Regions from separate parts of the Homo sapiens genome. Here all the other regions are linked to region 2. The links come from fine-mapping of genetic effects on gene expression. A gene starts in region 2. Each other region holds a variant in brackets. All regions are shown on one strand. Distances are between the middles of the regions. Region 1 overlaps FAM167A-AS1 (FAM167A antisense RNA 1). Region 2 holds the start of FAM167A-AS1 (FAM167A antisense RNA 1). Region 3 overlaps FAM167A (family with sequence similarity 167 member A).

What was found.
Region 1: its variant is fine-mapped to the expression of FAM167A-AS1 in pancreas (GTEx, PIP above 0.99).
Region 3: its variant is fine-mapped to the expression of FAM167A-AS1 in anterior cingulate cortex (GTEx, PIP above 0.99). The same link has a PIP of 0.9 or more in lung.

The regions. Positions count from the first base shown.
Region 1 is chr8:11,385,988-11,394,165 of GRCh38, reverse strand. The region is part of intron 2 of FAM167A-AS1 (FAM167A antisense RNA 1); the gene reads right to left. It also overlaps the pseudogene RNU6-1084P. Among named protein-coding and RNA genes, the nearest start is that of FAM167A-AS1, 22 kb to the right of the region's middle. The variant C/T (reference allele first, on the strand shown) is at 4,377.
Region 2 is chr8:11,364,145-11,372,325 of GRCh38, reverse strand. FAM167A-AS1 (FAM167A antisense RNA 1) reads right to left here and starts at 3,924. Exons shown (of 7, transcript NR_026814.1): 1 at 3,874-3,924. It also overlaps the pseudogene TDH.
Region 3 is chr8:11,431,271-11,439,439 of GRCh38, reverse strand. The region is part of intron 2 of FAM167A (family with sequence similarity 167 member A); the gene reads left to right. It overlaps FAM167A-AS1 (FAM167A antisense RNA 1), which reads right to left. Exons shown (of 7, transcript NR_026814.1): 4 at 5,305-5,520; 5 at 4,338-4,610; 6 at 1,230-1,400; 7 at 783-1,004. Among named protein-coding and RNA genes, the nearest start is that of FAM167A, 31 kb to the left of the region's middle. RefSeq lists a silencer at 1,020-1,223 and enhancers at 2,499-3,018, 3,019-3,538. The variant G/A (reference allele first, on the strand shown) is at 4,407.

The sequences.
Region 1 (8,178 bases), 22 kb before region 2:
AGAAAGCACAGCAACTTATGTATGCGTGGTCCTCACGCCTGCTGCTATATGGACTACTCAGAAACGCCCCTGGAACACCTGATGCAAACTGTAAAGTGGGGAAACCTGTCAAACTGCCACGGCCTGCTCCCACCCCAGCTGAAGATGCTTTCAGCCAAAACCCAGAAATCTTCTCACCTGGCTGCTTTCTGAGCTTAAAAACCGAGTTTCTAGTTTATTCTAATTACTAACATTGGTTTTTCTTTTGTTCTCATAGAAATGCCTCTCGTGAAATACTCGCGCCATATGGATGTCTAACTTTGGTGGCAGCCCACCTGTAACACTGCTGCCCGAAATAAGATGCAACTGTTGACAGTTTAGCTAGACTGACTGATGCTTGGGACTCAGAGACAGGTTCGGTGGTGTAGGAGACAATCCACCGACCCAACTTCTAGATTGTTAAACTTGTCATGGAGCGGAAATACAAATCTAGTGTTTGATTTGCTCAGATATGCACTTTTAAAGCTCTGAAAAGATGCATGAGAAACTAGAATAAAGTTTACCTAGGGAGGTGTGGGAACAGGGCAGATGGAGGCCAAGGGTGAAAGTGATATTGGTCACATATCCTTTATTAGAAGTTCTAATTCTCTGTAAACAGGTCTCAGAAATTCCCAGCTGCTTATGGAAAAGCAGAAATGTCTCGTTCCAAAGGCTGTATAATGGCCTTGTGAACTTCTTGGAATGATAACTCTTCTGGCTGGCTTTACCTTGACCTGTCCTTGACCAGTGACTTGTTTTCTGTCTTATCTCACTTGGAACTTGGCACAAGTCCTCAGGCCACCCAGTATAGCAGTGGACTTGAGGGCTGTGAGCTAGCGTAGCTGGGAGCCTTCTCTCTGGGAGTAATTCCGTCTTCCCCTCGGCTCCCATCGCCTTAAAGGACACTCCTCAGTGACCCAGCACTAGCAAGTCCCCAGACCTGCCTGCCAAGGTCCTCTTTGTCTAATCGGAGGAATCAAGGGCGCCCTCTCCCAAGCTTTAGCTGAACGACGGACTCTCCTGACACTGTCAGGGAGAAGTGAGGGGAAGGCATGGTGAGGAGGGACTCTTGGGGAGCAGAGCAGGCTTCCTCTTCACCTCAGAGTACCTGCTCTGTGTCTCTCCTCCCACGTTCCCTGCCCAGCAGGGTGACCTCAATCCCCGAGTCCATTCTCTCCCTGTCCACCGTCCAGGCTGGCCCTCCAGCCCTGCCGCCCACCCCTGTGGCCAAGCCTCCCCCTTAGCACCTGCAGAAACAGCGCTAGTGCTGTCAGGCTCCAACACGCCTGGGTTTCATTCTCGCTCTACTGCCCACTAGCTGTGTGGCCCTGGGGGAGCCATGTGGCCCACCTGCATCCTGGTGTCCTCATATATAAAATAGGAAAAAGCATGCCCACCTCACAGGACAGGTGCAAAGCTTAAAGTCAATGGTGCGCCTGTGCTGCCTCCTGCAAGATTTGTAGATGCTTCTGCGTGCTGGCAAGGTTCTGCTTCTTAAGCTAGTTAGGGGCTACACAGGACTTTGCCTTACAACTATTTGTGAAACTGTCCATTTTTGTTTTATGCACTTTCTATATGTATGTTTCATTATACCATTTCTTTAAAAAACACTTATAAAAAAGCAAATCTGGTGCTCGCTTTGGCAGCACATATACTAAAATTGGCACGATACAGAGAAGATTAGCATGGCACCTGCACAAGGATGACATGTAAATTCATGAAGTGTTTCTTTCTTTCTTATTTTTTTTTTAAAGCAAACCTGTAGAAGAAAATGTTAGATGCTGAAAAACATTTAGTTATTCAGGCTGGGGACGGTGGCTCATGCCTGTAATCCCAGTACTCTAAGAGGCCAATGCAGGTGGATCACCTGAGGTCAGGAGTTCGAGACCAGCCTGGCCAACATGGTGAAACCGCCTCTCTACTAAAAATACAAAAATTAGCCAGGTGCGGTGGCACATGCCTATAATCCCAGCTACTTGGGAGGCTGAGGTAGGAGAATCGCTTGAATCCGGGAGGTGGAGGTTGCAGTGAGACAAGATTGCACCACTGCACTCCAGCCTGGGCAACAGATTGAAACTCCATCTCAAACAAACAAACAACAACAACAAAAACCCACATTTAGTTATTCAGGGGAAATTATTCTTCCCCTGATAAGGATAGCGTTCCCTACTTTAACACCATCTCAGTTCTCTCCTTTCTGAAGAATCTCCCTGATTCTCTGTTATTTCAAATAACTGTCCTTTCCCAGCCAAGCTCCTAAGATGGCTATTCTAAAACCGCCACCTCCCCTTTCACTCCCCTTTCCCTTCTGTGAGCTGTGGCTGTCAGGCTGTGCCGCAGCTGAGAATGCACCAATGGCTTCCAGCAGCAAACCCATCTCCCTTACGCTTCTGAGACCCGGACCATTGCTCCCTGCCATCCTTCTCCCACTGCAGGGAGCTCTGCCTTCCAACCTGCATCAGTCGTATCCCAGTGCACGAGGGTGCCCTGGGTACAATTCCAGGGTCAGGTACTGTAAATGACAGGGGATAGTATCACCTGGACTTGCATCAGAGGTAGCTGAAGTTTCTGAAAACACCCATTCCTCAGCCTCACTCCAGACGACTTGTCAGGAAGGAGTTCCAGAAGGAGGACGGTCACCCCCAGCGCCTCCCATGGGCCAGGCACTGCCCATGCTTTGGACACTTTAGTCCTTCCCCAGTTCTAAAGAGTGGGTGCTATAATTGTCCTCATTTTGCAAAGGAGGAAACTGAGGCTCAGAGAAGCTGAGAAACATGGAGTGGGTCCTGTGGGTGGGAGTGGTGGGTCAGAATTTGAAACCAGGACTGTGCGGCTCCCCTGCCCACACTTTGGCCGTGCTTTGCTAACCTAGTATCTAGAGCAGCAGCGTTTCTCAAACTTGTCTGCACACATGCATTGCCCGGGGGTTCTCATTCTTTCTGACCCAGCAGGTCTGGGTGGGGTCTGGGAGGCTGCTTTTCTAACAAGCTCCTGGGTAAGCTGATGCAAGAGGGGAGACAGAATTGGAATAAATGTGACCCACCCCATCACCAGGCTTTCCCTGCTTTACGGTAGGTCAGCTAAGGTTGAGGAAATAGATGGGCCTCTCACCACCATCCTCGCCAGAGCCAGCCGCAGCCTGGAGGCCCCTCACCCGGAGGGGCTGCCTCCTTCCTGCCAGTATAGATCAGACACAAGGCTCAGCTTCTGCCCAGACTGCACAAGAGCTTAAGGCTCTGAAAACATCACTAAAGGTGGGAGGAGATGGCAGGGAGCAGCTCCATCTCAGGGTTAGGGCATCGGGCATCTGACCAGCTTCTCTCAGCTCTGCAGCCTTCCCAGAAGTGCACACTCTGGACATGCGGTCCCCCTGGGAGGTGGAGTCAAGTCCCTGCTCCAGAAGTTTCCCTACCTGGGAGCAGCCTCCAGGCCCCTCTGCCTTTGCCCAGCCTCTGGCTTTCTGGGAAAAAATTTTGTTCATCACATTGCACGTTCCTCAGAGAAAAAGTATTGGCAGCCCTTTGCAAAAGTTTCTGTGTTGTTCTTCTTTTCAAATGTAAATTCTGTCCTTATGGGCCTGAGAAAGAGACGAAGCACCATAGATACTGGTCACTTCCAGGCCTTTTCCAACCAAGAGTCCTTCTCCTGAGGATGTGGAGGGGGCTCTTCTTTGAAGCTCCTTTTGGGGCACAGCTTCCCAGTTAAGCCTGTTGTCAGTGTCTCCACCTGTTTCACCGTGTGGCACACACAGCACATGACACTCTGCGTGCCACATGCCGCGATGCAGAAGGCCGCCGCCCCTGAGGCTGTGAGCGCACCTGGGGTCCCCTGGGGCCGAGGACCTCCGTACCTCACACACTCATTCCGTGTTCACAGCTCTGCAGTCGAGAAGTTCTGGATGGAGACTCTCACCCTCCCCTCCAGGACACTCACTGGCCACACATTCTGCCAGAAGGACAGAGGGCATTAGTAGAAGCCATCAGAATAGCCTGGTGAGACTGAGAAGGCAAGTGTCACTGAGGGGAGCCCAGCAACATTAGGGCTTTGAGGTGACCTGGAGATGGGGCTGAATTCTGAGCTGAGTCCTCGGAGCACAAGCCCGCCCTGTGTCTCCGAGAGGGTGCCCTACCTTCATCTCTCTCTCTCTCCATCCTCCTCCCACCCATCCCTGCTTCTCTCTCAGCCAGAATTGTTCATCACATTGACCCCTCCCTTGTTCCCCCACCTGAGCCCCAGGAGTATGTTCTCTGTGTGGGTACAGCCTGCTGTGAGCTGCAGCAGCACAGCAATGGGCAGAAGTTCCTGCCTCTGAGGCCCTGGCAGCCCGTACTTCAAAATCTGCCCCACTTGAACCAGTG[C/T]CTGTGAATGCCAGGGGGTGAACACTTGCTCGCTTGTTCTGCTCACAAGCAGTTTATGGGCAGGGTTGTCAGGCAAAGCAGCAGACCACTTGGGGTCCAGGGTCCTCTGCTTTCTGACCAGAGCTGAGGACCTGCTTGTCCCTGCTCCCTGGGATACTGCCGGTCGGGAGCTGAGTCACATCCATCGCACCTGCCCTCATCCAGTCTGAACAGGTGCCACCCAAGCTGACCTTTTCCAAGAATAATCAGCGTGGCCTCCCTCTCTCTCTTCTGAAACGGGTTTTACATAGAATGAGAAGCGGGGCCGTCTTTAGGTCTCTGAGTTTCCTGGGTGTGATTTTGCTGTCAATCACTTCCAGGATAACTTGCCCATCTGGCCTGATGGGCCTTCCAGAATGCATTCCACCACTTCTAGTCCTGCGGCTCACCTTTCTAGTCGTACCCACATACACAAGTGGCTTCTTTCTCCTGGTAGTGTGTGGCAGGAAACCTTGCAGCTCTCCCTAACGTGACATTTCCCTTTAAGCTCTGCTCACACAGGACTGAAGACCTCCGTGGTGTTGGCACCACATAGAATACCCGAACCTGCGATGCTCAGCTGGTCTCCATCTCTTACCCAGCAGTTCAGCCCACCCTGTCACAATCCAAGGATGTTTGCCAGACACAGGTCCAAAGCCCCCTCCGCAGGTGCTGAGTCTGCATTCTCGCCCATGCCTATGGTTCTAGAGGCACAGGGGCCCTGCAACGCTCCCTACCAGTGATGAATAAGAAATGTCTGGGGGACTAAGACATCAGACTGAAGAAGGGTGAGGAACATTGAGGAACGGTGGATGTTCGCTACAGATCTCAGGGAGCCTGAGGCAGGAGGGAGATTATGCCCTTGGATCCGCTGCCCTCAATAACCACTGCAGGGCCTTGAGAGGAGAGAAGATAAGGAGAACAAGCCAAAGGGGCCCGTCCCGGCGAAGGCTACACAACTGCCAGCCCGGTGATAACATGGCATTCGACCCCCTTCCTGAGAATGGCTGCCAGCTTCCCGGGCCCATGGCTGTGTTGACTCTGGAAAGAGGGAGGATGCTATCAGCTCACAAGGTCTGAGCCTCAAGACCCGAGCAGAGCGGCCGGCCGATAAGCTAAGTGGGGCCTGTAACTGCTCCAGCACAGGTGCACGACCCACCCTGTTTTCCTCTGGCACGAGCACTGCTGGCTTGTCAAAGACTGCCCTGCTCTCAGGCCTGCTGCCCTGGGCAGGTGGTGGGAGTGAGATGGCAAGCTTGTACCCTCACACTAGAGCTGTCGCCCTTTAGGTGGACATCCTTTAGCATCGTGGTTCTTTATCCTTTGGGGTGGAAGGGGACCCTTTGAGAATCTGATGAAAAGACAGCACCCTCTCCTCTAAAAAAAAAAAAATGTAACATCTAGTGTGCAGTTGGGCGTTTGGATTTTAAAAGTTGGCAAAAGGCCTTTGATTCCCTGGAGGAAGAGGAGTGGGAATTGGGAGAAATGTTACCTGAGGTTCGACACTGAGGAGGAGAGAAAGGCAGGGTGCATGATCTCTCTAAGAGTGCCCAGGGAATGAAGAAAGGACACCACGTCCCTGAACAATAGACTCAGGCATTAGGAGAGCATTTTCAGGTGGTCCTGGCTTGATCACCCAGCTGGGGAAGATCACGGTGGGGGTTCAGTAAGATTATTCACAAGAAGCTTTGGGAATAACATGGAAGTATCTTCTTACCTCTTTTCTCTGTGGGTTTTAGTAAATAATTTTAAAGCACCATGATGGAATCTGTGCATGGCCGTCAGGATGCCGGACAACTTTCAAAGACGGCTGCTGTGACAGACACTGAGGTGGCATTTGTTGGGAGTGCATTTCTCCAGCTTCTCTAGGTATTCTGATATCTTGATTCCCACAGACTTAAGTCCAAGTCAGCTATTCCCAAGCAGTGGAGGTAGATAGGGTATCAGTACCTTGTCAAGAATAAAAGCCCTTGGTGAGCTAATAACTGGATTGACTCATTTCCCCAGGCAGGTAGCTTCATGAATGAGAGCCCAGCAACCTGTCGCCAAGGTTGGTTGGGCAGGAAAAAATGCATCCAGTCTCTGCAGCATCTGTCCTGGGAAGGGCCAGCCCTCTTGAGCTCTGAGTGTGTTTTTTTCATGTTGGTTATATCAGGTTCCTTGAGAGGCAAAAGTGAAAGGCAACTCTTGGGTCCTGGCTTCCTTGAGGAGGCTGGGGTGCCACTCCGTCCATCCAGACTTCAAATGGACCCACACTGATGTACATCTGCTCTGTTTCACTGGCACTGTTTCATTTCTGTCTCACAACAATCCTCTAAAACCAATACGACCCTACACAATTTTCATAGAAGATGAAATGCTTGTTTTCCTGGCATCTGGTTCAGTAATGAAAATGTGTTTTGAATGGAGGTGAGCAAACAGGGCTATCAGGAGAGCATCCAGTCCAATGGGCGGCAGGTGTGCAAACAATGACAACAGGTCTTCTTTCTTGGGAAGAAAGGTGCATGTGGATCTGGGGCCTCTGAGCAGGGGTGGCAAGATGGGATTTGCTATGTAAGAGATACGCTTGGACAAGTTCCCATGAGAAACATGGGGAGCTCCTCCTTTGTGAACGGAAGCCTCTCCCAAAACGTTTGATAATTACTGCTTTAGCAAAAGAAATGCTTTTTCCTTGAAAAACAAAAGCTCAGGCACAGTTGGGTTTCTCTCTCACTATTGCTCCTTGCATAGCTCCAACTACCATATTAATTTTTTTAACTCATACAGATTTATCTTAACCATATTAATTTTCATTACTAGCCAAAATGTCTTCTACTTCACAGAGAAAAATGGTGGGTAGAGAAGTGAGAACTGTTTATCTTAGACAAAGATTTCAGCAGAATAGCAAAGTTCATAACCAACCTTCTATAGCCACACACATTCCTTTTACGCCTTCTGAAAGTTCAAAAATGAGCAGTCATGCATCTGATCCCAAGATACAGCCTCTCTAAAGCACAACAAATAAAAAGCAATTGCATATAAACCTAAAATTATGTTGCATAATCAATGTTTTGTCATTTGATAGTATTTAGAGGTCATCTAACTATACAGTGATTATCCATTAACTCAACTTAATATCAGCCCCAAATTCTAAGTCATCTAAACACCTAGAAAAGTATCTTCCAGCTACAAAATATAATTGCTGTTGAAAGAAAAAGTTTGTCACCATAACGAATGAATTTAGTTGAGCACAAATTTCCTGGTTTAATGATCCTCAACATTATGTAACATTAAGTAATCGCTTATTTGATGAGTAAGCTTGTACGAGTTTAGGAAAGACAAACCAAATAAAATGCATGCTTGTGTTATATACATCGATAAATAGGAGAAGTAACGTGGCAATTTTTTAATCAAAATTATTATTAATAATATTTTGAGACAGAGTCTTGCTCTGTTACACAGGCTGGAGTGCAGTGGCACGACCTCAGCTCACTGCAACCTCCGCCTCCTGGGTTCAAGTGATTCTCCTGCCTCAGCCTCCCGAGTAACTGGGATTACAGGTGCGCACCACCACGCCTGGCTAATTTTTGTATTTGTAATAGATACAGGGTTTCACCATGTTGGCCAGGCTGGTCTCCAACTCCTGACCTCAGATGATCCACCCGCCTTGGCCTCCCAAAGTGCTGGGATTACAGGCGTTAGCCCCCACACAGCCTGAATCAAAATTATTAAACTAGTCTAGTTTGCCAAAGATTAATCTTAATTATGTGAACTTGGTTTCTGAATTGGTATTAGAAATTCAATT
Region 2 (8,181 bases):
TTTGGTTTCATCTTGACACATAATCTGAGATCTAGACGCCTTGGTAGATGAGCACTGTATCTTTAACAAAATATTCTAGAAACAACAAGTCTTTCTTCCTTTTATAACTCAGAAGACGGTGGTGTGATCAAGAGAGTGGGGAGCCCTGCCCCGCCTACCTACTCACGGTCCCTTCCAGCCCTCTGCAGCAGCCTCCGGTGCTGCAGCTCCACTAATGGGACACGAAAGCATCGCCTAACATTTTATGGAACAAAAAGGATGGATCGCATCCTAGGAACCACACAGGACCTAACCCCCCATGGGACAATCTGCTCTTCCCAACCGTTGTCTCCTGGCAGCTCATATCCCATCTCCTCTTTTCTCCCATGAGGCCTGGCACTTTGCTGCCAACCTTAGCAACTCCTTTAGTGCCCACCACATCTGCTAACGCCCCCCTCCCCAGCCATGCGAAAGGAAGGTGTGAGCCCTGCAGTGACCATCTACTGCTGAGCTTTCCTGGGATCGTTTCAGCCCTCGAGGTAGCAGTCTGAGCAGGGCGGGGACTGCCCTGGCACACTAGTGGTTGCAAATGCAACCACATCTCACCCTCTGCTAAGACTCACATTTTCTTCCAGATTTTTACGTATTTGAAATCAGGATTATCCTACAACTTCTTTTGTACAGGTTGTGATTGTAATAGTGCTAGCATTGCCTATTGGTGACATAGGCACCTTCCAAACACAGCACTGAACCCTGCGCAGTGGGTGTCAGAGGCCAGGAGAAACATTCAGCCATCATTGTAACTCCTAGGAACCAAAGAGTTTAAGGTTTTGGGCAAACCAAATAGAGTTAGCACATTCCTAAAGCAGGTGTCAAAAGTAGGCGAGATTGGCGTAACTATAAAGCTGGTTTACAGTGCCAGTGACTTTTAGGTTTTATGAATTCTTTTAAGGAGTGCTCTGACATAAAACTCATACTGGCACAGAGAACAACACTGGGTGGAAAAACCAGAGACACCAACCACTGAGTCAAAAAGTGATTCAGAAAAGCAAAACCCGAAGTTTCAGGAAAACAAACAAACATACATTTCTAGATCCGTTTCTACAGATGCGCAAGTGATAACATCTGCATCTAGCAAAGTCTCAAAGAGCTCCTCAATGGGATACAAAGTAAAAAGTCCAAACAACAAGAAAGCGTTCTGTTTCTTTTTTCTTTTGTTTTTTTCAGAGATAGGGTCTGGCTCTGTTGCCCAGGGTGGAGTGCAATGCTCTGATCATAGTCACTTCAGCCTCTGCCTCCTGGGCTGAAGTTATCCTCCCACCTCAGCCTCCCAACTAGCTGGGACTACAGGCTCACACCATGACACCCAGCCAATTTTTGTAGAGACAGGGTCTCCCTGTGTTGCCCAGGCTGGTCTTGAACTCCTGGACTCAAGCGATCCTCCTCCCTCAGCCTCTCAAAGTGCTGGGATTACAGGCATCAGCCACTGCACTTGGCCATTGTGTCTATTTAAATGCAAGTTTTCTTCCTTTCTTAGAACATAAAAATAATAGTGTGTATTACAAATAACAGCATATTTTAATAACATATTTTTAATGATACATTTTCTAGGTGCCTTGAATATTAAAAAATTGGGAAAGTACAACCTTGGAGGCAGCTACTTGTTCTGGTTCATTCTTTCATACTACAACTTAAATTACAAATTATATTTAAACTTCTTACAGCAATGTAGGTACAGAAGAATTGTACTTACAGCGTAAAGAAAGAACTGGGCAAAATAATTTTTAAATTTTTGACCTTTTAACAAAAGAGAAAAGCTTTTCTTAAGGACTTCAGACAAATGGATCAACAGACAAGGTATCACATATACTCCCAAAATAAGGCAGAGTTATCTCCCGAAACTATCCCCTTAGGGATGCTCACCTTATATTTGAAACATTACACTCTTTCAGGATATACTAAATGCTGTCGGTAACCTGAAAAGAATACAAGTTATTGTTCTGTGGAAACATTATTAGCCTCAAACAACCTTAAGCAATGCTAATATTGTGGCTGGTAGGATAAGTTGTAAAGGAGGCACATTAACAGTCACGGTCTCTAGGATTATAAAGCTACAGTTACAAGTATTTGGTGTCACTGGAAAGAAGCCTGTTAAAAATCGAAAGCAATGCTCTGTGGATTCTGAAAAGCAGCTGCCCTAGTGCTACCTACACACAGGCATACTTGTGGCTTGGGATAAATGTCCACCAACAGCATCATACATAGACCCCGAAACTGCTGCATCCCAAACAACTTAGAAAGAAAAAAGATCATCTGCTCTTAACCTATTAGGGGATGCCAAAGGGGGCACCAAGATCAAATACGAAGTCGGAGTGACATGCCTGAAATGCGAATGTGAAGAGGGAAAGCCCACATGCTGGTTAATAGATTAACAAATCTGAAACACCTGCAACTAATAGTACAGGTGTCTATTTTATCCTCTCATCTACAATCCTAAACTTTATATATGTAAGTTGGCTAAAAAAAAGTTTTCTGGGATCTTCACATTGGAAGGTAAGGGGTGGCCTGTTTAGCTACCTTATAGACAAACATACTAAAGCTATAAAAACAGTGCCATGAAATAATTTTTTTTAAAGTGACTACCCTAAAAAAAAATCATTAAAAAACAAGATTCCTTTCTCACCGGTGATTTTTGGAAGCAATTCACTGATTTAGAGGCAGTTATCATCCGGTTATGTGAGATCTAGGATTTATTCACTCACGGCTCTTGTATTAGAATGTTAAGATTCTCCAGCAAAAAATGAAGTTTATATTCTTCAAACCTTTTAGAAAAATAAAACTTTCAACTGATCCTGTTGCCTCAGCCTCCCAAAAGTGCTGGGATTACAAGTATGAGTCATTGCACCCAGCCACAAAAATAAAACTTTTCAACAAATGTAAACCATACTGAGGTCCATGAATATGTGCCAAGAGGAAGGTGTTGATGGTCGAGAATTTCATCACAAATTAATCCAACTCGTTCCGAAGATAAATTTGACCACATAAAATGAAGAGGCAAGTAGGTGTTTACGCCCTGTGACCCAGTAATTGTACTTCTAGGTTTCAGCAATTAAATAGAATGACATCATTATGATACTCCATTCAACGAGTTATGCAGCTATCTTTAAATGGCAAATGTTAAAACTACATGTAAGTTCTTTGTAACGCATAGAGGACTGGAGAATATTTTAAAACAGCTACCATGTGACATGGCAAAAATTGAAAGTGAGTCTTTTCCAAAACTTTTGACAATATTGTCTTAGCACTACTTTTATAGTAAAAGAAAAGAAAAAGGTTTCACCTTCCACTCCTAGATTGTATAAGCACAGGAGAAAATAAAAGGTATACACTAGTTTTTTTGTGTGTTGTTGTTTGAGATGGTCTCGCTCTGTGGCTCAGGCTGGAGTATGGTGGCGCAAGCATAGCTCATTGCAGCCTCAAACTCCTGGCTACAAGTGATCCCTCAGCTTCAGCCACGTGAGTAGCAGCTACAGGTGTGCATCACCACATCTGGCTTAAATTATTTTTGTAGAGATGAGAGTCTTGCTATGTTGTCCAGGCTGGTCTTGAACTCCTGGCTTTAAGCAATCCTCCTGCCTCAGCCTCCTAAAGTACTGATTACAGGTGTGAGCCACTGCACTGGGTCCCACACTACACTGCTAACATGTTATTGATTGGGTTTGGAGGGGAAGACAACTTTATTATATATCTTTTAAATTGTCTGAACTCTTAATAAACATTTTTTTAAAATGACAGAATTTAAAGCATTTTCTGAACACCCTTACCATAAAATACAATCACAAATTGGTGATTTGGCCTATGTGAATTAAAAAATACTAAATATCTCCCACCTACCATAGTAAGTGTCCAAAGCACTGCAGTAGCTTTCACTAATCCAGTCTGTTCTGGACTCCAGGCCATCTATCTTGCTGGCAGACTTCGGGATCGCTGTTTGTGTAGCAACACAAGGCACATCCCAGCAACGCCACACACAAACATGTGAGCAGAAAACTAATAACCACCGGTAGCCTGTGTAAAACATCAGAACAAAGCCAATCTTTGTATTCTTTCTTTTTTATTTATAAATAAACTATTTTTGTGGTTAAACCCACTTTTCCTTCAAATAGCTTTTTGGGTTATTTCCAAATTAATCATAAAAAACCCTTTCTCCCAACAGAACGGAAAGCATTTTACAGGAAAACATTGATGGGCTCCGGGATCCCAAGATGTGCACCAGATACTGAGTGTTCAGACAGAAGGGACAACTCTAATTCTAGTCTTGGAGTACAAAGATGTCAGTGAATAAGAATCATCCAAAGAAGCTGAAGCATTCATTATTTTTTCACTCTTATTTGAGATCTCCTGGAGGTGTGTTTACAGATTGGGAAAGATTCAAGGAACCTGTTTGGAACAAACCCCTCCAAATGATCCGAATTAAAGGTCATTCTAGGAGCCTGGTAGAAATGCTGGAAGGTTAGGGTCTAGGAGACAAAGGTCACTCGAGTTGCTGCTTCTTATCTTATGAAAGGGAAGAATTGCTTGTTCCTTTAAGATAACTGAGAATAAATTAATCAAACTTAAGAACTGTTTTTTAAACTATAAACAGTAAGCAATCATTTTAAAACTCAATTATCTACCCAAATGTTCACAGCAGCATTATTCATAATAGCTTAAAAAGTGCAAAAAACCTAAATGTCCCTCAATGGATGAATGGATAGAGAAAATAAGAGGATTACTCATACAATGGAATATTACTTAGCAATAAAAAATGAAGTAGTGATACATGCTAAAACATGGATGAACCTTGAAAATGGACTGCTTAATTAAAGAAGCCACTAAAAGACAACCACATTCCACTTACATAAAATGCTCAGAACAGACAAACCCAGGGACAGAAGAAGTACATTAGTGGTTGCCGAGGGTGGGAAGGGCTTATATAATATGATTTCTTTGTGGGGTGATGAAATGGCCTAAAATTAGATTATAGTGATGGTTGCAAAACTTTTTAATACATTGAAAACCACAGAACTATAAATGAGTGAATTTTATGGTATGTAAACTATATCTCAAACTTTCAAAAAAAGAATTCATTACTAACTTTCTGATTTTAAAAAATAAAATCTTCCTGCCTCTCAAGAGCAGCCCAAAAGAAAAATAACAAAAAAATAAAATCTACAAACATAAACCTTATTAAGTGGAGGAAAAAGCTACAGTAATGTAACTGTTAAACAATTCAATTACCTAAAAGTTCTCCAGTTAATAGTCAAATAGATTTTAAATCCAGTTATGCCTTCAAAAAAATCCACGCTTTGACCTAACAGTTCAAAACTCCAAATGCATAACATTTTGTTATTAAGCATGCAACATAAATAAACGCCTTTTAATCCTTGATAGCTGTTATCAAATATATCCATGATTAATCTGTGGAACTGGAAGTTTCACTTCCTAGTGATTTTACATGCAGTACATTCCGAGGTCGCTGGAAAAAAGTTAACCTGTACGTGTCTATACAGTATTGCACCAGAAATATTTTTTTAAATGACCGGATTGAAAGCATTTTCTGAACACACTCATTCCCTTACCATAAAATACAATCAGAAATTGATTTGGCCTAACTTCAACTTAAAAAGTTAACCTGTATGTATCTATACGGTAATTGCATCAGAGGGTTTAGAGTAGCCCTTCTGAAAGCTCAACCCAGGAATATCTTAAAAAAAAAAGATGCAACAAGAAAGTGCTCTTTAGAAAACTGCATTGGTCTAAACTGGTCTGACTAGTGGGCCTCAGCTGGATTCAAATAACCAGTGGCACCTGGCACTTAATGAGTGAATCTAAAGGGATGTAGCCCAGAAACCTGTGTATTAGACAATCTCCCTAGATGCTGATGTTGCCAGGTCAGGGAATTATGTTCCTGGGAATTACATTTAGCTCACTAATAGGAGGGCAATCAAAATAAGAGCAGGGCTACCCTTCGCTGGTTACATCATCTTTGAATTCTTAATTTCCCACAGATCTAGCATCTTACAGAAAAACCAGAAATTATAATTTTTGAAGCAGTGTCAAAATATCTTGAATGTGATAGACATGGGATGAATACACCAAACATGTTTTACTTTCGCTGGGATAGTAAAGAATACTTATAAATGAGGAGTACCTCTTTGAAAGTCCTTAAAATGTAATCTTTGGTCTTTAGTCAAGAGAATAATCGAGTCTTAAGAGGAATATTTAAATTGAATTTAATTAAACACAAATGTCACATACTCCCAGCTTCCCAGAAATAGTCACTTCATCCTAATTAAGGAAATGGAAACTAATGATGACTTAAGCCTTATTCTGTGGAATGTGTTTAGACAAGTTCAGGCAAACAGCAAAAACTGAAAAGTCCCACCACCATACCTACAACATTCTGAAAATGCTTAAATGTTAACTCCATTCTTTGTCTAGCAGTTCAATATGAGCTGCCAAAATTTAGTCCAATGAGTCAGTTCCAAATAATGTAGGCTCCTTGGAGTCTATAACCTTGGAGTTGTGACAGTTCTCCCTTGACAGTGGACCAGGACACAGGAGCTCCTCTTCCAGATTCTTTCAGTTGGCTTGGGCAACTCTGCTTTCAGAACCATGGAAGTTCAACATGGCAGTCACCAACTCTGGAAGATCAAAGTCGTGTTTCCACCCCCAGTCCTTCCGAGCATTGCTGTCATCAAAGTTCATCGGCCAACCATCCGCTAGGAAAAGATACGCAAGACTAGCTTAAGTTATTCAGGTTGTGGATTTGCAAAAAGGTCTTGACCATTGTATATAAAGGTCTACCGTACAAGGTACAAAACAGGAAATTCCTTCGAGTAAAGCAGAACCGCCATTATGCACAGTCACCCTCCTAGGGCCGAAGACTATTAACCCATCTTTCGTCAGGCACTGTGAATTTTCACACATTATCAAAATCTCACACAACTTCATAAGAAGTTTTATACTCAAAGAGGTGCTTCCATCCACAAATTGGCAAAGTTACAGTATTTGAAAACCTGGGGCTGTTTTCATACTACCTCTGTTGCTTCTATTTTTCCTTGCTTTATGTTTAAACTGTAAAAATGATGAAAGGCTAACAAGCTGTTTATTTGGAATGGAATGATTTCACCCACTTTAGATATCATTCCCCAAAATCAAAGCATCTGCTAGCTTGGGCTCAACAATTTCTTGGGCTAGGCTCCTTCTCCAAAAGGTGTCTGGACCCTTGGGAAGGATCTATGCTCTCTTCAACCTTCCAAGGTTTACATTCTCCAGGGACTCACAGTAAAGGCCTTTGCCACCGGGTACGAACCTATGGCCTGGCGAACGGCATCCACGTTGTATGTGATCTGGAATTCCGGCACGTGCTTGAGGACCTCCTGGGCCAGCTCCTCGGGTGTGAAGCTCATGGCGCTGACATTGTAGGTCCTCATGGAAAGGGACTCAGCTGGGGCCTCCATGACCTCCAGGGTGGCTCTGAGGCAGTCGTCAATGTACATCATGGGCAGTCTCGTGCAGGCTTCCAGGTTGCACTCGAATTTGCCATGCTTTGTGGCATCATGGAAAATCTGGACTGCATAGTCTGAAAGGGAATCCCGTATGTAGGTTATAACAAAACAATGAATGAGCCTCTTGGATCAAGGCAGCAGTTCTCAAATGTTCTAGTCTCAGAGTCTTTTTATAACAGATTCTTAAAAATTAAGAAGTCCAGTCAAGCTCAGTAACTCAGGCCTGTAGTCCTAGCACTTTGGGAGGCCGAGGCAGGCAGATCACCTGAGATCAGGAGTTCAAGACCAGCCTGTCCAACACAGTGAAACCCCAGCTCTACTAAAAATACAAAAATTAGCCAGGCGTGATGGCACACATCTGTAATCCCAGCTACTTGGGAGGCTGAAGCATGAGAATCGCTCAAACCCAGGAGAGATGGAGACTGCAGTGAGCTGAGATCACGCCACCGCACTCCAGCCTGGGTGACAGAGCAAGACTCCATCTCAAAAAAAAGAATTGAGAACTCCCAAAGAGATCTGACTAATGTGGGTTATATCAATATTTACTGAAACAGAGTTAACTGAGAATTGTTTAGAATATTACCTTTTTAAACGACAATAAGCCTATCACATATTAATATGTATAACATTTTATAGGAAAAAGGGTATA
Region 3 (8,169 bases), 67 kb before region 2:
TTGCCTGTGCTGCCTGCTTGGTATGCACAAGACTCTGGTATGTCAGGGGACAGCCCTCTGAGGCAGGTGTCATCCATGTGTGCTAAGCAGTGTGGCCAAATGGCAGGTCATACTCACCAGTGTCTTCCGACGGGAAGTGGGCGATACAGCCAGGTTGATACCCCCCATCTAGGGAACCTTCCATATACACTATCCTGCAAGAAGGCTTGGAAGTATTTGCTATTCCCATCTTACAGAGGAGAAGACTGAGGCTCAGAAAGGTTGTAGAACTGAGGGACAGAAAGTTTAAAGCGACTTGGCCAAGGTCATATGCAAGGATGTGGCTAAGCCACGACACAGACACACATCACTTGGTTCTGGATCCAGATCTCTTTGTTCTGGGCACATCAGATGTCCAAGTCAAGGGGCCCTGAGCTGCCAGAAAGCCCGTGCTTAAACCCTTCAGAACAGGGTACTTGTAAAAGGTCACACAGGAGGTTGCTAGCACTGCCTCATAACAACCATTTCCAGGGACAGGGCAGCTGTACTGTTTCAGGATGAAGGTAGCAAGTTGCTCGGAGCCATCAGCGAGGCACTGGCTGAGCGGGGATTTGGTTCACAAGAGAATTCCTCGTCCCAGCCTCTGTTCTCCCAAGGCTAAGTCTTCTCTGCATAGCCCGGTGCTTTCAGCCTGTCTGGCACCAGCCCTGCAGGAGGAAGATTCCTGTTCTATTCATCTGGGCAGATACGGCCTCGTGGGGGTTACCAAAGAATGTATAAACAAAAGAACCAGGAAAGGAAATACACCAAAACTTGATGATCTTTATTTCTGAGTGGTAATATTATTCTTTTGACTTTTTTATAGTTTTCGAAGTTTCCAAAATAGGAATATATCATGTATAATCAAGGGGAAAGACATTATTGAAAGACCAAAGAAGCAAAAGTGCTAGCACCAGGCTCTTCTCTCCCTTGCCAATGTAATCGGTATGCATTCTTCACCTTGTACTTCTGTAGCATAGAATCTCCTAGAATAAAATAAAAGTAAGGCCTTCAATCTCCCAACATTCAAATAAAAGTAAGGCCTTCAATCTCCCAACATTCCTGTTTGATGTGAGAGCTGATGAGTTGGGGCTGCTGGCCAGGGAGCTGCAGCTGACCCCAACCGGGAGGTCCTGCCTGCTCTCCCTTTCCTGGCTGTCTTGCAGGGTCAAGGAGAAGGGAGTTGGAGGATCCCCACAGCAGCACCTCACCGGAATAGCAGCTCATGGCGATTCCGGGGCTGAGAGAGGCAGGCGGAAGTCTTTTCATCCAGCCCCATGTCCATTCAGCACTACCGGCCTCCACTGGCCGCCTGGCTTCCGTGCTGGGGTGGGGTGAGGCCAAGGTGGATGGGTCAGGGCTCCTGTCTTTGTGAAGTTTCCCTTCGAAGGAGAAGACAGGCACATAAACACAGTGGCATGGTGTGACAAAAGTTATAATAGAGATGCAGTAAGTTGAGTTCTGAGATGATCTGGTGAGCTGAGGGCCGTGCTGAGTGGATGATGGTGGATGATGAAATTAACCAAAGGGAAATACGCAAATTCCTCACTTCCTTGGCAGCCAGATCCATGCCTGTCCACGTAATTGCATTAAGTTTCTCCTTATTTCCCATTCACGTTTCTTCTATAATAATAAACTCAATTCCTCTGATGGGCACCCTCCCCATTATAACAGCACACGACGGTATGGGGTAGTGACTACTGGGTGAGGCACCTAGAGCGTTTGCTAAAAATGCAGATCCCTCCCAGCCCTCCATGGAAATTCAGATTCCATAAACCTGGGGAGGTGTTGGGGTTTTAACAGGTATCTGCAAGTGATTCTAATACAACTGGCTCATTAACTGGTCAAGAGTGCACTGGAAAAAGCATAATATGTGTAATTAGATTCAACTTCAAGTCAGATTCTACCATATCCTAGTTGTGTGCCTTTAGGTAAACCAATTAACCAAGACTTCTTGGTTTTGTGATTGTAAAATGATAAATCCCTACTTGGCAGCGCGTTGAGCAGGGAGGAGGGGAATGAGTGGCATTAGGACACTGAACAGTTGCTGGGCCCCTGGGATGGTTGGGTACTGTATTACGCATGTTTATACACACGCCTCACATCATTCAGTAGCCACAGCAATCTTTCCGGGTAGGCACGATTACTATCCCCATTTCACAGATGAGAAAACTGAGGTTAAAAAACTTGCCCAAGATCAATCAGCAGAGCAGGAATTTGAACTCAGATCTGCCCGACCTCAAAGCCCTGCAGTGGGTCTGGATTCACCCACCATGCTATAGGAAACTGTGAGGCCCCTGGCAGCTGAAGCCCAAAGCATGTTCTTCCCAAGAAGACAGGTACCCGAGTAATGGAGTATGAAGTGACTTTGGAGAACAAAACAGCCTCAAACTTGCCTGGAGGCTGGGGCAGAAAATAGATTTGCCTCACTTCCCTTTGGAGGCGCAGGCAGGAATCTATAGCAACTGCAGGTGCCTGGGAGCCCTATTTAATCCCACAGGTCCCCACTCCAGCAGCTCATGTCCTGTCCTCAGCTCTCCCTCCCTTGAGGTTAGCAGCCTACTGACACCTTCCTAGCTGGTTCTCGCTCAGCATCAGATGTGAAGCTCCCGCTACATCTGTTTCCAAAGCAGGGGATAGAGAACCCAAGAAAAGCCCAGAAATCCCAACAGTTGTGCCCCAGGGGTCTTCTGAGGGCTCTCAGGTGACCCCAGGGCACTTCGGCACTCCATTTCCATAGGACAGTTATCACCTTGGCTAAAGCTTCCAGTTTCATGTAATGCAAGCCCCAATTCCTGCCTGCAGATGGGGGAGGCCTTCCTGCAGGTGGAATTGAGAAGGCCGTGCAGGGGAGCTCCTGTCGGAGCAGGGAGACAGCCCCTGCTAGGGGGTGTCTTCTCTCCCTCCGCCGACTGGCCCAGAGACCCCCAGCAGCATGGCCGAGCTCACAGAGGTGAGGGAGCCAGCCCTTCCTGCAGGTCTTGCCGGGGGCCCAGCAAGAACAGCCGTACCTGGGCCATGCTCGCAGCCTGGCAGGGGCAGCAGTCCTGGGACTGGCTGCTTGGCCTCACGAGGGCCCCCACTTGCTCTCCAGGGGAGTGGCAGGGAAGTTGAGGAAGGCCTTGGCCCCTAGTGGCGGGCCTGGCCCTCCTCATGTGCAAGCTAAGGACACCCCTGAGTGGGAGGGTCCCCACCGCATCTCCAGTCTGAAGTGTATTGGCATTACCAGCCCTTTGACGTTGGCAACACTTGGTGATAGAGACAATAACACAGCCCTACCCAACCCCGGACCATGCTTGGTGACGTGTGACAGGCAGTACAGTTGTCAGCGATAAGGGAGCGCTCAGTAAAGGTGGGTGAAGCTTGGGCTGGGGACCCGCCCTGAGCCAGGCTGTGAGGAGCAAAAAAGGCTCTGGCAGGGACCCGGCACCCAGGAGCTGGGGCAAGCGCCACATGGGAAGTAAAAACGTAACTGAATGGTTTGCTCTGTGGTTCTGTGTATGAAGACGGGATATGGTGGAACTAGTAATTCCGGAACTCGATGTCCTGTACAAAGTGTGTGGATATGGGCTTATTTAATTCTCATAAATGATCAGTAGTGTGTGCCCATTTAATTACGGTCAATTATTATCAGTAAGTGGGTACTATTATGCTCATGTAGCAGATGAGGAAATTGAAGCTTAGGTGTGGGGTGACTTGCCCAGGGTGGCGTCACCAGCAAGTTGAAGAGAAGGACTTTGAACCAGGGGCTGCTCCTCTGTCCTTTCTACTGGCTGCCTCTCCACAGGCCTGGGGGCAGTGGGAGATCCCAGAGGGTGGCGGTCAGCCCGGGTAGCAGAGGGAGGAGTGAGGTCTCCAGGACTGTCCCAGCCGTGGAGACAGGTACTGGGTAATGTAGTGTGGAAAATCAAGACTTGGCTCTGGGGAAATTTAACTAACGGATTGATTCATTGATTCATTCATCTAACAAATGGCTTTTGAGCACCAGAGCATGCCCTAGGCACTGTGGTGGCCCCAGTCTCTGTCTCTCCTCTGGTGTTTTGTCATCTAGACACATGATAAAAAATGAAACCAATGCCCAACACGTGGGTGCCATGGTGGAGGCCGCATGGAGGGGCAGTGGTAGCAGGCGCCCATGGGGCTGTCATCCCCTCTGCAGGGAGAGGGACAAAGGCTGAGCTGGTCCTGAAGGGTGACAGGTGGAGAAGGGACCACAGGGGAGGGGACAGAACCTCAGTGTGGCTGCCCTGTGGGGGCAAGGGCATCAGAGTGGGAGAGGAGGCTGGAGAGGTCAAGGGAACAGGAGGGTCCCGTGATACCTTTGAAAGATTTGAAGAAGCAGGGAGACCTGCCCATCAGCCTCTTGAGTGGAGACAGATTGAGTGAGG[G/A]GGGGAGGCAGGCAGGGAGGAGGCCCAGATGCTGGGAGCTGAGGTGCAGAGGACCCAAATGCAGGGGTGGGTGCCAGTGATGCTGTCCTCTGGGCCTGTCCTCACCCAGCCAGCAGCAGTCACATCTCTCCCACTCTCTCTCCGGCACAGAATGTCTTCCTTGGGTGTACAGCTTCCAGAACCTCCTCAGTTCCAAGATGCAATCTGATGGGAGGGGAGGAAGGTGATCAGCATCCTCTCTCTGTGTAGGGCACATGCCACCTGTCCAGAGTCATCATGTCATCAGAGGCTGCACTAGGACTGGAACCCAGAGCCCCTAGTGGCAGATCTAGGGGCTCTTCGGAATGCATCACTCTGTCCTTCCCAAAGGCCAGCCTCACCCCTGAAGGTGTGTAGTTTGGCCCACACCTTCCAAGTTTGAAAAATTAAAGGCCTGATCACAGGGGTAGAGCTTAACTCTTCCTGTGGAGTCCTCGGCAGGGCCCGAAGAGCCTCCTGCTCTATGCCTGGCTCTGGGGCTGTCGTCTCTCCCTCCCAGCAAACTCACCATTCCCCAGGGGGCACAGGAGCCCCTGGCAGGGAGGATCCCTGGAGGCCTGGCTCAGATGGACTCATCTTGCTGTCTCCTTCCTGCATGCAAGTCAGCCCAGTGACAGGAGCCATTGCACCTGCCCCCCTCCCATCCACAGTCCCAGGCCAGGGGCCTGAAAGAGAACCCAGGACCAGCCAGGCTCAGAGTCCCCGCCCTGCAGTCTCTGGGCTGCAGAGCGTGAGTGCGGCCTCGGCTCGCCAGGAGAGTCAGCTTCAGCTCCCTCCCGCTGGGCTGCAGCCTCCCCGAATAGAGACCTCTGGGAAAGAAACTCCAGCCTTCCTCTGGAAATCAATTCACAAGACCAACCTGGTTCCTAGGGGTGTTTGCGTTTCTTTCTTCACATTTCCCCGGAACCTCCAGTTGCCCTTCAGCAGCGTGTTTGAAGGGCACTCCTGCTTTCTTTCCTGCCAGCGTTAATCTGGCTCTTTCTCAGGGACCAAACCCAAGATCATGTAATACAATTTTACCCAGGCTTCTAAGTGGATTCTCCTGCACAACACTGACGAAAATAATAAGGCAGACCTGCAGGTGAAGTTAAATAAGATAAGGAAAGAGATTACACAAATTGTTTCCTGGGTTCAAGAACTGTGAGTCTCATTCCCAAATCGTCGGACAGTGGAACATGTTCTGGGCCTGCACACACAGCTGGCAAAACAGCCTGGATTTTACACGCACCCTCTTTTCAGCATGCATCAGAGACTAATTGTAGCTATTAGGCTGGGATAGGAGAGATAAGAGCCTGACTTTAAGGGACCAGACAAAATGCCCTTCACCACCTTGGCATTCTGTCTGCCTGCCCAGTTCTGAGCTGATTACCACGCTCTCCAGGACACGCACTCTTTCGCCTCTGGTTGGCCCCTGTGCACTGGGATTTCTCTCAAGCCAGCTTTAAAGATGCATCCAGAAATCTCTGCCCCAAACATGTTTTCAGATTTGCTGCCATCACAGCCCTTATTTCACCAAACTAAAAGAACAGAGGGTTTCGTAAGCCAAAGTGCACACAGCCACATTCTTCAGGAATGGAAGCATTAGACGATAGAAAAAAGACAAACTATTAATAGGGTTTCGGGTAAGACTTTTGTTGGAAAGGGGAGGATTTGTCTGGTGGTCCGTGCATTGCCTTTATTTTAGGAAGCAGAAACCATGGTAGGTTAAAGGTAACACCTTCATAGAGTTGCTCCTTGTGCTTCCAATGGTCGGACAATTACATGTTCTTTTTTATTTTTTATTTTTTTTTATCATACTTTAAGTTCTGGATTACATGTGCAGAATGTGCAGATTTGTTACATAGGTATACACATGCCATGGTGGTTTGCTGCACCCAACAACCCGTCACCTACATTAGGTATTTCTCCTAATGTTATCCCTCCCTACCCCCCAACAGGCCCGGGTATGTGATGTTCCCCTCCCTGTGTCCACGTGTTATCATTGTTCAACTCCTACTTATGAGTAAGAACATGCCGTGTTTGGTTTTCTGTTTCTGTGTTGGTTTGCTGAGAATGATGGTTTCCAGCTTCCATCCATGTCCCTGCAAAGGACATGAACTCATCCTTTTTTATGGCTGCATAGTATTCCATGGTGTATCTGTGCCACATTTTCTTAATCCAGTCTATCATTGATTGACATTTGGGTTGGTTCTAAGTCTTTGCTATTGTGAATAGTGCCACAATGAACATACGTGTGCATGTGTCTTTATCATAGAATGATTTATAATCCTTTCAGTATATGCCCAGTAATGGGATTGCTGGGTCAAATGGTATTTCCTGTTCTACATCCTTGAGGAATCGCCATACTGTCTTCCACAATGGTTGAACTAATTTTCACTCCCAACAGTGTAAAAGCATTCCTATTTCTGCACATCCTCTCCAGCATGTTATTTCCTGACTTTTTAATGATCACCATCCTAACTGGTGTGAGATGGTATCTCCTTGTGATTTTGATTTGCATTTCTCTAATGACCAGTGATGATGAGTGTTTTTTATTTGTCTGTTGGCTACATAAATGTCTTCTTTTGAGAAGTGTCTGTTCATATCCTTTGCCCATTTCTTGATGGGGTTGTTCTTTTCTTGTAAATTTGTTTAAGTTCTTTGTAGATTCTGGATATTAGCCCTTTGTCAGATGGATAGATTGCAAAAATTTTCTCCCATTCTGTAGGTTGCCTGTTCACTCTGATGATAGTACATGTCCTTTTTTAAATTTTTAATTCCTAAAATCTTTGGGCCGTTTTAGACCCATAGACATCAGTCCGTGGGATCAGAGAAAGTATTGGAGCAGATCTCATTGGCAACTAAGAGTATTTGCTTCCCTTGAATGTGAAGAAATCACTCAGTGTTTTAGACCAAGCAAGTGAACACAGATCAGCCAGGGGATGTTGAGTAAGGATGCAAATTCCACAAAAATGCTGCCTTTCCCAAATGCACATCCTATGTTAGACTAGCCTTTGCCAGGGACAGCATGAAACCCACACTGAGAGTTGAGTCACCCCGGCCAGCCTCTCGGGCCTTTGGCAAAGAACAAAATCCTTTTTTTTTTTTTTTTTTTTTTTTTTGCCAATTGGTCCAGTACCCTCCTTCTGTGGCCCCCATCTCCAGTAACCCCCCAGAGAGGCCCTTCTACCTCCCAGACTACTCTTCAGGGTCTCATCAGCTTCCAGTGTCACTCAGGCTAGAGACAACATCACTGAGACCACCCTCCAACTGTCCAGGCTGGGCCCCCATTCCCCAGCACCTGCGGCCACGCTTGCTGCAGGCAGGCTGACCGGCCATCTCTATTTGCCCAGGACTAAGGAGGTCCCCTGGATGCAGTATTCTCAGTGCTAGAACCAGGTAGGTCCTGGGCAAACTGGATTGAACTGATTGCTCTAAATTTGCAGACTCTGCTGTTGTTGTTTAAATGTCAGTAAAATATGTATAATATAAAATGTACCATTTTATATGTACAGTTCACTAAATATATTCACATTGCTGTGCAGCCGTCACCACCATCCATCTCGAGAACTTCATCCTCCCAAATGGAAACTCTGTGCTCACTAAACGCTAACTCCCCATCCCCTCTCCCCAGCCCTTGGCACCACTGTCCTGCTTTCCATCACTATGAATTGGACTACGCTAGGAACCTCTTCTAAGTGGAATCCTACGGTATTTGGCCTTTAGTGTCTGGCTAATTCACTTA